Linked DNA regions of Homo sapiens. The protein of the gene in region 1 interacts with the protein of each later gene in a pairwise test. Each region holds a gene or a part of one and is shown in the gene's direction. Other genes may lie near its edges.

What was found. The genes of interacting proteins can lie anywhere in the genome.
Region 2: the proteins of CCDC81 (region 1) and SCIMP interact in binary tests that used the Homo sapiens proteins (3 or more experiments, as listed by UniProt).

Annotation. Positions count from the first base shown.
Region 1 is NC_000011.10:86,405,563-86,413,634, forward strand, and holds part of CCDC81 (coiled-coil domain-containing protein 81), read left to right. Parts: intron 1-2,051; coding exon 2,052-2,139; intron 2,140-2,564; coding exon 2,565-2,708; intron 2,709-3,698; coding exon 3,699-3,803; intron 3,804-6,824; coding exon 6,825-6,997; intron 6,998-8,072.
Region 2 is NC_000017.11:5,224,301-5,232,372, reverse strand, and holds part of SCIMP (SLP adapter and CSK-interacting membrane protein), read left to right. Parts: intron 1-8,072. UniProt on the Homo sapiens protein: Lipid tetraspanin-associated transmembrane adapter/mediator that acts as a scaffold for Src-family kinases and other signaling proteins in immune cells.

The DNA of each region.
Region 1 (8,072 bases):
TTTAGTATGCTTTGAATTTCCTTTGACCATGTTTCTTCAGTATGCTTTCAATTTCCTTCAAACTGTATCCCCTTCCAAACCTGTATTTTTTTTGTCTAGAACTTTTGTTCCAATTTGGTTTTAAGTGTTAAAACATTTTGTATTATTTTATGGTCAATGATTAATTTGGATTTGTCAACATGTTTTACCAATTTCTTTGGTCACCATCATTTCTTCTTTTTTCTTTTTTTTTTTTTTTTGCCCAGGCTGGAGCGCAGTGGCGTGATCTTGGCTCACCGCAACCTCCGCCTCCCACGCTCAACCAATTCTCCTGCTTCAGCCTCCTGAGTAGTTGGGATTACAGGCGCACACCATCATGCCTGGCTAATTTTTGTATTTTTAGCGGAGACAGGGTTTCACCATGTTGGCCAGGCTGGTCTCGAGCTCCTGACCTCAAGTTATCCACCTGCCTCGGCCTCCCAAAGTGCTGGTATTACAGGTGTGGGCCGCCATGCCTGGCCTGTTTCTTATATCCCTGTCCTTCCTCCTAGGTTCATTTTTCTTCTTGCTAAAGTATATCCTGTAATGGTTCCCTGTCTTTTCAGTACACTTATTCTTTGTATTGCTTAAAATGATTCTTACTGTGTTGTCGCTCTTGAGTGCTGATTCTTGGTTCACAGTTATTTTCCTTCAGCATTTTAATGATATTGCTCCATTTTCTCCTGACAGTTGTCCTGATGCAACGTCCGAATCAATCTGGTTGTCATTCTTTCTTGTAGCTTTTAAGAATCTTTCTTATTTCTTGATGTTCTGCATGACTATTCTTAGGAGTCATGATTTTCTGGAAAATTCTTATCTGTTATTTTCTAGAATATTGTTCTTTGCCATTTCCTTTATTCTAAAAATTCAGCACTTCTATTAAATGCATGTTTGAGCTTCTGAATCTGTTCTCTATTTCTCTACTTTTAAATATTTTCATTCTTGGCCTGGCGCGGTGGCTCATGCCTGTAATCCCAGCACTTTGGGAGGCCGAGGTGGGCAGACCACTAGGTCAGGAGTCCGAGACCAGCCTGACCAATATGGTGAAACCCCGTCTCTACTAAAAATACAAAAATTAGCCCAGCATGGTGGTGTGCACCTGTAATCCCAGCTACTCAGGAGGCCGAGGCAGGAGAATCACTTGAACTTGGGAGGCAGAGGTTGCAGTGAGCTGAGATTGCGCCATTGCACTCCAGCCTGGGTGACAGAGCGAGACTCTGTCTCAAAAAATAAAATAACATAAATAAAATTAAAAAATAAATATTTTCATTCTTCGAGCTGCTTTTTAGGTGATACTATCTGTCCTATTTTCTAATGAATTAATACTAGTATTAATATTAATACTCACCCCTAATTCATCTCCCTCCACCACACTGACCATAGGCACCTTCCACCTGAAGGACTGCACTGGTTTGTTTGCTTGGAATGTCTTTTCCATCAGATATCTACACTGTTGTTCTCTTACTTCCTTCAGGTATTTACTCCTATGTCACTTCCTTGGTAAGAACTTCCCTGGCCATTCTCTTTACAGTTTAACACTCCATTCCTCCAGCATTGCAAGGCATTTATCATCATGGAACATACTATAGAGTGCACTTATTTATCTTGTCACTGGGCTGTCTATCCCCATCAGAATGTTAATTCCATGAGGGCAGGGACTTTTGTATGTGTGTATTTTGTTCTTCATTGCTTCTCCTGTGCTTAGAACAGTGTACATGGTAAGCACTCAATACATTTCTGTGGAATGAATACATTTCATCCCCATTTCACATGACTGGTAACTGGGACTTTGCAAGATTACACAGCTGGTCTGATGTCAGTCATCTTGCAAGCAAGAAAGCTGGGATTCAAACCCACCTTTATCTGACACAAATTCAGATTCTGTGGTACATATTCTTAACCTCTATACATATAGCTGTTTTGAAGTAAACCACTGAAATATTTTTCTTCATCTTATACTTGCCTCTAAAATTATTATTGCCCTTGAGGTCAGATTGTATTAAACATTAATTAATGTTGCATTGTTTTTATAGCTTATCATATCCAAGTTGTCTGAAACACGACAGTGAGATGAAGCCCCAAACATCTCCAGCTTGCCAGGATCATAACAAGGCAGGACAGGTACAGTGTTTCCAAACAAATAAGTCCCATCAGAATCTTATACTGATTTTTGTTTCTCAAAGAGAGTTCTGGGAATCTCTCTTCCTTAATTATATGAGTATGGCTCAAGTACTCAAGTACTCAGGCTCAAAACTAGACTGTGATAAATCTATCTACTAGTCAAGATGTACTGGTAAACAAAAAAAGAGTTGAGAAATCCCTTTCTAAGTTTCAGCTGCTATAAATACTTCTGATGAAGTGAGAGTTCAGAAGATCCTTTAGAGTATTTCTGGGGTCCACTCTGCAAATCTCATTTTGCTGTCACTAATATATCCATTAATAATAGGTTTCTTGATATACCTAGCCTTTGGAGAGCTTGTGAAGGGAATGCGAAAGCAAAAAGGTAAAATGTAAAAATTTATTTGTCCTGAAATTTGGGATTGTAGGAAATGTGCTATGTATGTTTGCAACGAGCACAACGAAATTCCCTGTTGTACTACAGTGAGGAAAGGAGGAGAGAGATAGAAGATGAGAGACTCATACAGCAGTATCAGATGTTAAAGGATCAGGAGGCTCTCTTCAGACACCAGGTAGTCCAACACCTCGATTAGTCTTTAATATGGGGCAATAGAACATGATTATATAATGTAATTTATTATTATTTTTTATTGGCGCAGGGTCTCACTCTGTCACCCAGGTTGGAATGCAGTGGCACAACCTCTGCTCACTGCAGCCTTGACCTACTTGGGCTCAGATGATCCTTCGACCTCAGCCTCCAGATTAGCTGGGACTACAGGCACACGTCACTACACCTGGCTAATTTATGTATTTTTTGTAGAGACAGGGTTTCACCATGTTGCCCAGGGTGGTCTCCAACTCCTGGGCTCAAGCATCCAGAGGCTCCAACTCCCGCCTCTGCCTCCCAAAGTGCTGGGATTACAGGCATTACCCACTGAGCCCAGCCTATAATGTAATTTAAAAATGTTCCATCATATGTCTGTACTGTGGGATATCTAATCACGTATTTACTGTTAGACTAAAACTTGCGTTGAAGTTTTCACTAATAATAAACAACACTGGGATGAATTCCATGCAGTCGAATGTTTGCACATATCACTGATTTTCTTTAACCTAAGGTCTGAATTTTAAAGGTGGAATTATTGGATTTATGTTTCTTTATTTCTGATAAAATATAACTCTGGTGAAGGCTTTTACCCTTCAGATTCATGTCCTATTTCAAGCAAAGACAGAATGGCACTTTTACACTTGCTGTATCCAGATTTATGTGGTGTCTAATAATTGACCCTGCTGCCTGCCCTTTCCTGCATTTGTGATGAATTCTTCCATTCCTTAGATCCCTCTAGTGGTGGTACCTAAAGGCCAAGAAAAGGAAATAAAATACCTTTCCCAATCTACTTTTATAAATCTATAGAGATATCAGAAAGTACCACTGCCTCCAAAAGGCAGGTTTCTACCATGGCTGGATTATTTTAATGTAATAGAATTAAAATTTTTGGGGGCTCCACTTCAATATGTAATTTAAAATTTAAAAATAAACTTTTTTTTTTTTTAAACAATAGATGAAAAGTCTGGCTACTAGAGAACAGAATCAGAAAAATGCTGCCTATAATCTTGGAGTTGCTGAAGCTATAAGAAACCACAAGAATGAGAAACCGGAATTTTATGTAAGTCTTTTAAAAATTTCTGTTGCTAACACCTGGCCCATCTGTGAGCCTTTGGATCCACTCCCTGTGTTGCAGGTTGTGCCTTATTTTTTATTTTTATTTTTTGAGATGGAGTCTTGCTCCGTCACCCAGGCTGCAGTGCAATGGTGTGGTCTCAGCTCACTGCAACTCTGCCTCCCGGGTTCAAGTCATTCTCCTGCCTCAGCCTCCCGAGTAGCTGGGATTACAGGCACCCGCCACCATGCCCCGCTATTTTTGTATTTTTAGTAGAGACAGGGTTTCGCCATGTTGGCCAGGCTGGTCTTGAACTCCTGGTCTCATGATCTGCCCGTCTTGGCCTCCCAAAGTGCTGGGATTACAAGTGTGAGCCACCATGCCCAGCCAGTTGTGCCATTTTTTTTAAGCAGCGGAGTTGAAAAGTGGGTGGTGCAGTTTGAAGCTTTCTTCTAGGGCAGGTGTTGTCCAGTGTCTATAGCCACACCACTCACATTCACTGTACCATTCCTACTAGTCACTGCAGGTCTTGTTAATTATGGTAATTCTCAACCAGGACGTGGGATGGGTGGAGAGGAGGGAGCAGTATACTACTAAAGTCCAGCCCAAGGACCTAAGAGAACCAGCAGTATCAGCATTGCCTGGGAACTTGCTGGAAATGCTGAATCTAGGGCCTCACCCCAGACTCCCTGAATGGGCATCTATGGTGGAATAACATCCCCAGGTGATTTGTATTTGCATTAATGTTTGAGAAACTCAGATTCAGATGGTGGTGAGCCAACTGCTTCACTGCTTGTTTTAATGTTTTCAATCATCATGTGCCTACCTTTATTTCTGCCTGAATCTTCCTCTTTATATATCACCATCTAGGTAGTCGACACTCCGGACATAAATCTAATAAATTATAATTTATTTATTCATCATCAAACATTTATTGAATTCCTCCAGGCCAGCCACTGTGCTGGTGTCTAGGAATACAAGGTTCCCTCTTCTGAAGAGGTCTCTAGTGGGAGAGACAGACACTTAAAGAGACAACTGTGTGGTATAATAAATGCGATGATAAATCTCTGAAAAAAGGGCACTATATGAGCAAAAGAAGAGATTCATTAACCTAGACCAGAGATCTGGAAAGACTTTCTGACATACAAGAGTTAGGTAAAGAAATCAAGGGAGGAAGAGCATTCCAGGCAGGGAAACAGGGAAGGAAGGAGAGAGCGAGCGAGCATGGGGCTTCTGAAATTTAGGCATGATCTTTCTCTCTCTTTATATATAAGCTCCAGATTATATTTATTACTGCTGTGTATCTCTTCTTTGATATATCTATACACATCTTAAATTTAAAAAGACCTAAACAGAACTTTTGATTCCCTCCTTAACCTGTTCCTTTCTGTCTTCTCATGTTAGTAAGTGGCATCACCAACCAGCCATTTTTGCACAAACCTGTATTTAGTCATGATCACAATATTCCTTTCTCTGTTCCTGACTTCCGATCATTTGCAAGTCCAGTTGCCTTTACCTCCAAAATGTATCCAATACCTGTCCAAATGTCTTCATCTTTAATGTTGCCACACTGAAAGTGTTGCCAAGCCACATTGTTATGCTCAACTTCTCCAATACTTCCCTTAGATTCACTGCTTGCATTCTTGCTCTCCTATAATTTATTCTCCACACACCAGCCAAAGTGATATTATAATATTGTTAACCAAAACATACTATTCTCCCATTTAAAACCTCCACTGGCCTCCCATTGAGTTAAAATGAAATTTAGACTCCTCACCTTCAACTATCAAATTCTACACGCTTTGACTCCTGCCTTCCTCTTGGTCACTATGCCTTCTCCTTTCCCTTGGTCACTATGCCTCAGCCACAGAGACTTTTTTTCTGCTCATTGAACATGCCTAGCTTGTTTCCATCTAGTGTCTTTGCGCTTAATGTTCCTTCTGTATGGAACACGGGTCTCCCTGATATTTACAGTGAAGGTGATTCATTTTCTCCATGGAAAAACCTTCCCTAATAACCAACCAGTTTAGCTCTTTTCCCACCCAGCCACTTGCTATCATAAGGGCTTCCTAGCACTTAGCACTATCTTAAATGACCTGATGTACCGTTTCTTGCTCATTGTCTGTCTCCTGCATCAGCATGCAGGCTTGATGAGTGCGAAGATCTCTGTTGTTGCTCACTGTTGGATCACCAGGGTCTAGAATGGCCAGGCCCACAGTAGGTATTCAGTTTGCCCTCCTTTCAGCTCCTCTCTGTCCTTGCATGATTTCGCATGCACTCAGAATTCCTTCTTCCTTCCATCTGGATGTTGTAAATGCTAACTCACAACCTACTCCAGGAGTCCTTTTTCATCTCTGTCTCAGCAATGGGATTCCAGTTGAAACTGACCCAATAGTCCCACAGACAGGTTTTGTTTTTGTTTTTGTTTTAAATAAACATAGAAATTGACCCTTTTGGTCTTAAAGCTTGAAACTTAACATTGTTTTATCTGAGTTTCTTCCTCAGAAAAGAACCACTAGGCCTTCCAAAAAGTGTCAAAGAATTGAAACTCACCAGATGATTGCATTCAGACAATGAGCCAGGCCCCTCCATTGACCATGATTGCTTCCTTATCCCTCCCGAATTCTGGTTTTCCCATACATAGTTTCAATTCTTCCCTGCTATATAAACCCCTACTTTTAGTTGGTCAAGGAGATGGATTTGAGACTGATCTCTCATCTCCTTGGCTACAGCACCCAATTAAATCCTTCTTCCCTGGCAATAATCATTGTCTCAGTGATTGGCTTTCTGTGCTGTGAGCACCTAGACCAAACCCCTGGTGTTTTGGTAACACAGCTCAGCTCAGCTTCATCCTTGAACACACTCATATGATTCTATGTGTTACCTCAACACCAGCTGGTCCGTGTGTTGAGGGCTGGGCAAATATTATAAATTAAGAAATACTTTCTGATTTATCTTAGTCTTCTGAATTATTAACCTTGTTTTTCAGTACTCTAGCATAAATGAATTGCTTCTCTTTCATTCTAGAAATCCTTCCTATTTGACAAACGGCCACTCAGTCCTGCGCTTAATGCTCTTAAGCAAGAGGAATATTCCCGGAGTCTCCTGAAACAAATGGATAACAGACAGGAAAACGAAATAAAGCAAAGACAATACAGAGAGTTGATGGACCGCCTGGAACAAGTGCAACTCACAGAGGAGTGAGTCCAGCTACACACGCTCTGACAAATGGATTTGGAATTTTCATGTGAAGTTACTTTTCATGTAGGATTGAATCAGCATTGGTAGTTTCATTAGCACACTGTAACCAACTGAGCAAACTAACCCAGTTAGCAGCCAGTACTGAAATGGGAAAAGTTCCCTCGTCCCCCTCGCAGGGCATGCAGTGGGGGTGTGGCTTGCTTCTTCAGTGCCCTGCTGCTCAAACCTCTAGGAGAGCATACAGATGGGCAGGCTGTGGGGCTCTGGCCACACGGCAGTATCTAGGGGTGAATGTTTACAGCTCCTGAAGCCCCAGTGGGCATGTGTTACAGAGTGCTCTTTTAGTTTAGCCATCTGTAGGTGGCTTGTGTTAGTCAGCGCAATAGACCCCTGTCTTATCACAAGGAGAGAGGGCTTTCTGTATCCGAGGGTTCTTGCCTTGGTGTACCAGAAGAATTGGATCACATGTGGGCTTGGAGAATGAGTGCAAGGTTTTATTGAGTGGAAGTAGCTTTCAACAGATGGATGAGCCAGAAAGGAGATGGTATTCCCCTGAGTCGGGCTGCTGTGCGGCCCGGGTTCCCCTCCAACCACCCCAGCCAAACTCCACGTCATTCCACTGGTTGATGGCCTGCTGATGTGCTCTGGACATCCTCTCAGCATCCAGCCACTTGTGTGTTCCTCTGCTGATGTGTTTCTCTCGACGTCCAGCCGCTTGTGTGCCTGCCTGCTAGGGTCTTGGGGGATTTTTATAGGCACAGGATGGGGGTGTGGCAGGCCAGGGTGGTCTTGAGAAATGCAACATTTAGGCAGGAAAACAAAAATGCCTGTCCTCATCTAGGTCCGTGGGCACAGATGGAACCCTAGCCAGGGACCATGTCCTAGGGTGGAGCCCTAGCCAGGGACCATGCCCTTTCCCCACTTCCATATCGTTTAAAGGGACCACGCTCTTCCCTTCCCAGCACTTCCCTTCTGTATCAGTACCACAATTTTTTATTACAAAAATGAAAAAGCTGTCATAGTTATCATTATGGTAGTGATGGTCAATCTGTAATTACTATAATATAGAGCATC
Region 2 (8,072 bases), on another chromosome or scaffold:
ACTGTTTACACTGCACTGTTTATATTCCACCCCTTTCTTAGTCCCCCACACCCCTAGAACAAATCTGCTCACAAAAGAATTGGCAGATGCAGCAGACTTTACCAAAGACTCAGCGGGGGACCACCAGAGGGGCTTGTAACGCATCAGCGCAAACAACTGCACACAGAACATAACACGGCGCTGCTCTGAAAATGTCTTTGCCAGCCCATCCCTGAGCATTTTCTATCAGCTCCTCCTCTTGATACCAAATGAGGCCCATTCTGCTCATCGCACAGTAAGCCAATCACTGAGGTGACCAGTTTTTTTTTTTTGTTTTTGAGACGGAGTCTCGCTCTGTCGCCCAGGCTGGAGTGCAGTGGCGCAATCTCGGCTCACTGCAAGCTCCGCCTCCCGGGTTCACGCCATTCTCCTGCCTCAGCCTCCCGAGTAGCTGGGACTACAGGCGCCTGCCACCATGCCTGGCTAATTTTTTGTATTTTTTAAGTAGAGACAGGGTTTCATTGTGTTAGCCAGGATGGTCTTGATCTCCTGACCTCGTGATCCGCCCGCCTCAGCCTCCCAAAGTGCTGGGATTACAGGCGTGAGCCACCGCGTCCCGCCAAGATGACCAGTTTTGCAGCACAGAATGCATTTATTCATGAGGCAGCCAAGTGAGGAGATGGGAAAACAGGTCTCAAACCCACTTCCTCGAAGATGGGGTTTAGAGACGTTTATGGGACAAAGAAGCAGGTGGCCTAAGGTGTGGGGAAGGTGATTGGAGGGAAAAGTAGGACATCGGCAATCTGTGCAAGCCTAGTCAAGCTTCATCGTTCTTCATAGGATGCAGGTTCACAAAATGGTGGCATTAGCATGATGGAAGATGGAGTTTTTGGCGCTCTGACATCAAACGTCACCTACTGGACACTCACACAGACCAAGTTGAAGGATTGATGGTCATAAGTGGCTTGAACTGGATAAGAGCTGACCCCAAGTTCCTGAAAAACAACTTTTTTTCTTTTCTTTTTTTTTTTTTGAGATGGAGTTTCACTCTCGTCACTCAGGCTGGAGTGCAATGGCGTGATCCTGGAGGCTCACTGCAACCTCTACCTCCTGGGTTCAAATGATTCTCCCTCAGCCTTCCGAGTGGCTGGGATTACAGGCGCCTGCCACCACACCAGGCTAATTTCTGTATTTTTAGTAGAGACGGGGTTTCACCATCTTGGCCAGGCTGGTCTCGAACTCCTGACTTCAGGTGATCTGCCTACCTTGGCCTCCCAAAGTGCTGGGATTACAGGCGTGAGCCACCGTGCCCAGCCCTTGAAAAACAACTTAAACAACCATTACTATGATGACCTATATGTCAGAGATGTTATCCAGCAGGAAGCTAGTGGAAGTCCAGTTAAATATTGCTTAGCTACATGACTTTTAGCTCTATAGGCTTTTTTCTTTTTTAAAGACAGGGTCTCACTCTATAACCCAGGCTAGAGTGCACTGATGGTAATCACAGCTCACTGCAGCCTCAATCTCCTAGAGTCAAGCCATCCTCCCACCTCAGCCTCCTGAGTATCTGGGACTACAGGCACATGCCGCCACATCTGGTTTTGTTTTGTTTTGTTTTGTTTTGTTTTTATTTTCAGTAGAGAGAAAGTCTCGCTGTGTTGCCTAGGCTGGTCTTGAACTCCTGGGCTCAAGTGATCCTCCAGCCTCGGCCTCCCAAAGTGCTGGGATTACAAGTGTGAGCCACTGCCCCCAGTAGCTATATAGGTTTTAAGATCAACTAGAAGCAAGTGACTAAAATCAAGTAAGGTAGGTTAAGTTCTGCAGGCCTAATCTAGCCCTCGGGTTCACTCCCACCTTTGCACCATCCTGCTGGCTTCCCTTTTCATCTTTCCATCCCTTCTTCTCATCACCTTCCCTCCCAGAACTCCAAATTCTCCCCTTCTATAACCCAGAGGAATTCAACATTCCCCAGTTCCTACCAGCAAACTTCATTCCTAACCCAGCCAGCTTTGCAGATCTGCAGATCCTCTGCAGGGAGAATAGGGGACTCTCCTGGTCGGTAGCTGCCCTTCTTAGAAGACACTTGCTATTGTAAATAGAACTTGGTTGGTTTGCCCTTAATAATGCCTCATGCTTGGTGATCTTCTGCACACAGAGCTCTTTTGCATGCAACATCTCTTGGAAGCTTTTCAGAAGCCTGCAAGGAGACGTTAAGCATCTTATTCCAAGTGCAACAGCTAAGTGGGAACAGGAAACCTATTCCCTCTGGCCAGGTGCAGTGGCTCATGCCTGTAATCCTGGTACTTTGGGAGGCTGGGGCGGAGGATCACTTGGGGCCCAGAGTTTGAAACCAGCCTAGGCAACATTTTTTGTGTGTCTACAACATTTTTTTGTCTCTACAAAAAGGAAAAGAAGGGAAAGGAGAGGAGAAAAAGGAGAGGAGAGAAGAAAGGAGAGAAGAGGAGAGGAGAAAGGAGAGAGGAGAGGACCGGAGAGGAGAGGAGTGGAGAGGAGAGGAGCAGAGAGGAGAAAGGAGAAGAGGGGAGAAAGGAGATGGGGGAAGGGGAGGGGAGGGGAACTTGTTCCCTTGATGGCCAGCCTAGGGCCCTTCAGCGCTTCATTTATGTGAATACGTGAATAACTATCACAACGTAAACCATATTTCTTACTGAAGATCTTCTTTTAAAAATGCTAAATACGCCGGACGCAGTGGCTCATGCCTGTAATCCCAGCACTTTGGGAGGCCAAGGCGGGTGGATCACCTGAAGTCAGGAGTTCAAGACCAGCCTGACCAATATGGTGTGAAACGCCATCTCTACTAAAAATATAAAAATTAGCCGGGCATGGTGGCGTGCGACTGTAGTCCCAGCTACTTGGGAGGCTAAGACAGGAGAATTGCTTGAACCGGGGAGATGGAGGTTGCAGTGAGCCAAGGTCGCGCCACTGCACTCCAGCCTGGGCAACAGAGCAAGACTCTGTCTCAAAAAAAAAAAAAAAAAAAAAAAAAAAGCTAAATAAACCCACAGTCTCAGAAATTCCTGGTGAAGGAAAATGTGATTTCTGTCCCTGACACCCTGGAAATGCCCTTTGGAGAAATGAAAGTGAAGCTGATGTGTTGACTGCCTTCAGTTGCTCTCCCACTCACACGCCCTCTTCACTGTGGAAGGTCTTGCCAAATCCTTTCCACTGAAACCACCCAGAACTGCAACAGGCTCACTCATGTTCCTTGAAAATGTCATGGACAACTAGAGGAATGGGGAGAAACAAAGGGGAAGCTGGAACTCCACCTCCCCAGCATTGGATTGCCACTGCTTCCCAGCCAGCCTCTTGGCCCCAGTAGCCAATGGCCAGCGCAGGACGGGGAGCCTGCCCAGGGTCGCGTGTCCAGATGAGGCTTTGGAATTAGACTGCACAGCACAGTAATTTCAGTTACTGGACCCAAAGTGACTTCTGCCTGCATTCTCGGGTGGGAGGTCCATCTATAGCAGGGGAAAGAGACTGGGGCATCATCCATTCTTTCGTATATTCACAGATATGTATGGTATGTCCTGCCCCAGGTGATGTTCTAGGCGCTAGAAACACAGTGGTAATTACAGGCAAAGCCTCTGCTCTTATGCTGCTTGCCCATCAGTGTGGGAGACAGACAAGGAACAAACAAATAAAAAGAACAAATACACCAAGAGACAACTGTCACTGTCACAGGCTCAGTTGGAAGAAAAATGCATTTCACTGTTTTTTCTTTTTTTTTTGAGACAGGGTCTTACTCTGTCACTCAGGCTGGAGTGCAGTGGCACATTCATGGCCCAATGTAGCCTCGAATCCCTGGGCTCAAGCAATCCTCTCACCTAAGCTTCTTGAGTAGCTGGGACTATAGGCATGCACCACCTTGCCTGGCAAATTTTTAATTTTTTTTGTAGAGACAAGGTCTTGCTGTGTTGCCCAGGCTGGTTGCTAACTCCTGGCCTTCAGTGATCCTCCTGCCTCAGCCTCCAAAACTGTTGAGATTACAGGTGTGAGCCACTGTGCTCAATGCATTTTTTTTTTTTTTGAGACAAGATTTGGCTCTGTCACCCAGGCTGCAGTGCAGTGGCGTGACTGCAGCTCACTACAGCCTCAACTTCCTGGGCTCCAACAATCCTCCCACTTCAACCTCCCATGTAGCTGGGGCCACAGGCGCGTGCCACCATGCCCAACTTATTTTTCATTTTTAAAATTTTGTTTGGAGAAGGAGTCTAGCTCTGTTGCCCAGGCTGGAGTGCAGTGGCGTGATCTCGGCTCACCACAACCTCCGCCTCCCAGTGTCAAGCAATTCTCCTGCCTCAGCCTCCCAAGTAGCTGAGATTACAGGTGCACACCACCATGCCTGGCTAATTTTTGTATTTTAGTAGAGACGGGGTTTCACCATGTTGGCCAGGCTGGTCTTGAACTCCTGACCTCATGATCTGCCTGCCTCGGCCTCCCAAAGTGCTGGGATTACAGGCATGAGCCACCGCGCCCAACATATTTCACATATACATATTGCAGGGGGTAGTGACATCCCTTCACGTAGCTGAGTTCTTCTTGGGATGCGGTAGGCAAGGAGAAAGGATGGCCTCACGAGAGAGGCTCCACCAACTAAAATTGTGAAGAAAGCGCCATGGGAATGGGGGATGGGGACTGGGCTGGAAGGTGGAGGAGTTGGTGCGTGCTATTGCACTGCTCTGCTCAAGCCGGACCCCTCCCACCTCAACCCCCACACTGTTGACTTTGCCTCCCACCTCAGAGGAAATGGAAACTTAGGTGTGAGCTCTCAACTTCCTGCCCCCAAGCCCCTTCTCTCTGGTTCTATTCAGTGTCACTCCCTTCTCTAATCCTTGTTCCCTTTTGAAAGTTCATTCTGGGTGGGCAGGGTGGCTCACGCCTGTAATCCCAGAACTTTGGGAGGCCGAGGCATGCGGATCACTTGAGATTAGGAGTTCAAGACCACCCTGGCCAACATGGTGAAACCCCCTGAGTAGCTGAGGAGGAGCTTAACCTCCTGAGTAGCTGTGACTATAGGCACATGCCGCCACACCTGGCTAAGTGTAAGAGTGTGTGTGTGTGTGTGTGTGTGTGTGTGTGTTGTGTGTGTGTGTATATAGAGACAGGGTCTTGCTATGTTGCCCAAGCTGATCATGAACTCCTGGACTCAAGTGATCCGCCTGCCTTGGCCTCCTGAAGTGCTAGGATTACAAGCATGAGCTACTGCACTCGGCCAGTGCAAACACTTCTTTGCGATCCTTCAGTAGCCCTCAGTAGTCCTGTACTCACAATCTTATCGGCCCTCTGTGGCAACAACTCCAGGTCTGCCAGCACAGGTAGGATCCAGCTTTCATACCTTCCCAGGGCCTGAACTCGGTCATGCAGCCATTGTGTACTCCCTGTTTTCTGTACTCTCTATCATCCTTCCCCAGGGCTTCCTCTCTCTGGAAGCACCTTGGCCATTAAACCAGCCTGGTGGCCTAGAGGACATCCTACTGGAACTAGGATGTGATTCTCTTAGGCCCCCTCTCTCAGCTGCCCTCTCTCAAAAAGCAAGCTCTCCTTGGTTCTATTAAAAATGTGTCGGCCGGGCGTGGTGGCTCATGCCTGTAATCCCAGCACTTTGGGAGGCTGAGGCAGGCGGATCACCTGAGGTCAGGAGTTCGAGACCAGCCTGGCCAACATGGTGAAACCCCATCTCTACTAAAAATACAAAAAAAATTAGCCGGGCATGGTGGCACACACCTGTAATCGCAGCTACTGGAGAGGCTGAGGCAGAAGAATCGCTTGAACTGGAGAGGTGGAGGGTGCAGTGAGCCGAGATCACGCCATCGCACTCCAGCCTGGGGTACAAGAGCGAGACTTCATCTCAAAAAAAAAAAAAAGAAAGAAAGAAAAAAGAAAAGAAAAAGTGCCTCTCTGCGGTCCATTTCACTTGTAAGAACAAAACTGACAAAAAATATTTATTACTCTGAGTAGTTCTGAAAATGACCCATGGTTTCACTTTCTGACAACATCATTCCACTTCCTCTTTCCCAAGAAACTGATGAGAATGAAATTTCCTTGACCTTGAAACCCAAGCAATAGTTTTTTTTGGAAGCTACACTACATGGCCAATTTATTCTTTCCAGTGTTATCAAAGTAAATGTACGTAGTGCAAAAATCAAGTAATGCAGAGTTTATAACGAAAAGCAACAGCCCCTGTCTTCCCGCCTCGACCTTCCACGCAGTCACAATCCAGATACAACAGCTTTGAATGCGCAGGTCGTGGTATTTATTTCTATCGCTCTAAAGAGTATTGTTTCAGGAAAAACTCTGCAAGCGGTGTTTTTCCTCTGTTCTCACACCAGCACAACAATCACCAACACAGAAAAGGGCTTCTGTGACCAAATGTGTGAGGGTTTTTCCGCCACACACCAAGCAGTGAACACCAGCTGGGTGTTCTCCAATTCAATGCCAGCACTATAGACCCAGAGATAGTATCAGATCTCACAGCTCAGTTCCCAAGACTGCTGCCCCCAACTCCCCAGACGTCAGTCGCAAGTCCGGGCCTCTGGAACTTGAGAGCAACCAGCTTCAAGTTGGGGTTCTCACAACTCCCTCTTTGAGATCGGTGTTTTTTTTTTTTTTTCAGATGGAATCTCGCTCTTGTTGCCCAGGCTGGAGTGCAATGGCACAACCTCGGCTCACCGCAACCTCTGACTCCCAGGTTCAAGCAATTCTCTTGCCTCAGTCTCTCAAGTAGCTGGGATTACAGGCGTGCACCACCATGCCCAGCTAATTTTTTGTATTTTTAGTAGAGAAGGGGTTTCACCATGATGGCCAAGCTGGTTTCGAACTCCTGACCTCATGTGATCCGCCTGCCTCAGCCACCCAAAGTTATGAGATTACAGGCGTGAGCCACTGCACCCAGCCTTTGCTTTTGTTTTGAGATGGAGTCTTGCTCTGTTGTCCAGGCTGGAATGTAGTGGCGTGATCTCGGCTTACTGCCACCTCTGCTTCCTGGCTTTAAGCAATTCTCCCGCCTCAGCCTCCTGAGTAGCTGGGACTACAGGCATGTGCCACCACACCCAGCTAATTTTTGTATTTTTAGTAGAGACAGGGTTTCGCCATGTTGGCCAGGCTGGTCTTGAACTCCTGACCTGAAGTGATCTGCCCTCCTCAGCCTCCCAAAGTGCTGGGATTACAGGCGTGAGCCACCGCACCTGGCCGTGTTATGCAGTTTTATTGGAGGTTTGATGGTAACAAAAGGCGACACCACAGCATAACCTAGGTAGCAATTTAAGGCTGGACATGAGGCATTACTGTCCTAGAAACGCCTTGGTCATTTGCCACTATGGGAGCTTCCTAACCAGGATCTGACTTGTGCTCTCTTCTTGACCTCTCACTCTGCTGCTAACCTTTTCCGAGACTTTCCCGGTCTCTGGTCTGTCAGCTTCCAGCCCCCAAATGCCTGTTAACTCTCTCATGCAGATCAACTCAGTTTGCCCTGTATCTTCAGCTTCACCCTTCTGACCATAACTCACTCAAAGAGACCCATCCAGCTATTTTTCTAACCCTCAACTCAAACAAAAGCTCTCAAAATTTCTCTCCCCTGCTATGCATTAAGTCTGACTTGTCCTTGTGATTAAAAACAACTGGCTGGGCATGGTGGCTTGCACCTATAATCCTAGCACTTTGGGAGGCCGAGGCAGGTAGATCACAAGGTCAGGAGTTCGAGACTAGCTTGGCCAACATGATGAAACCCCGTCTCTACTAAAAATATAAAAATTAGCCAGGCGAGGTGGCACACACCTTTAATCCCAGCTACTCAGGAGGCTGAGGCAGGAGAATTGCTTGGGAGGCAGAGGTTGCAGTGAGCCAAGATCGCGCCACTGCACTCCAGCCTGGGCGACAGAGCAAGCCTCTGTCTCAAAAAACAAACAAACAAACAAACAAACAAACAAACAAAAAAACTGGCCTGGTGCAGTGGCTCACGCCTGTAATCCCAGCACTTTGGGAGGCCGAGGCAGGCAGATCACGAGGTCAGGAGATCGAGACTATCCTGGCTAACACGGTGAAACCCCGTCTCTACTAAAAAAATACAAAAAAAT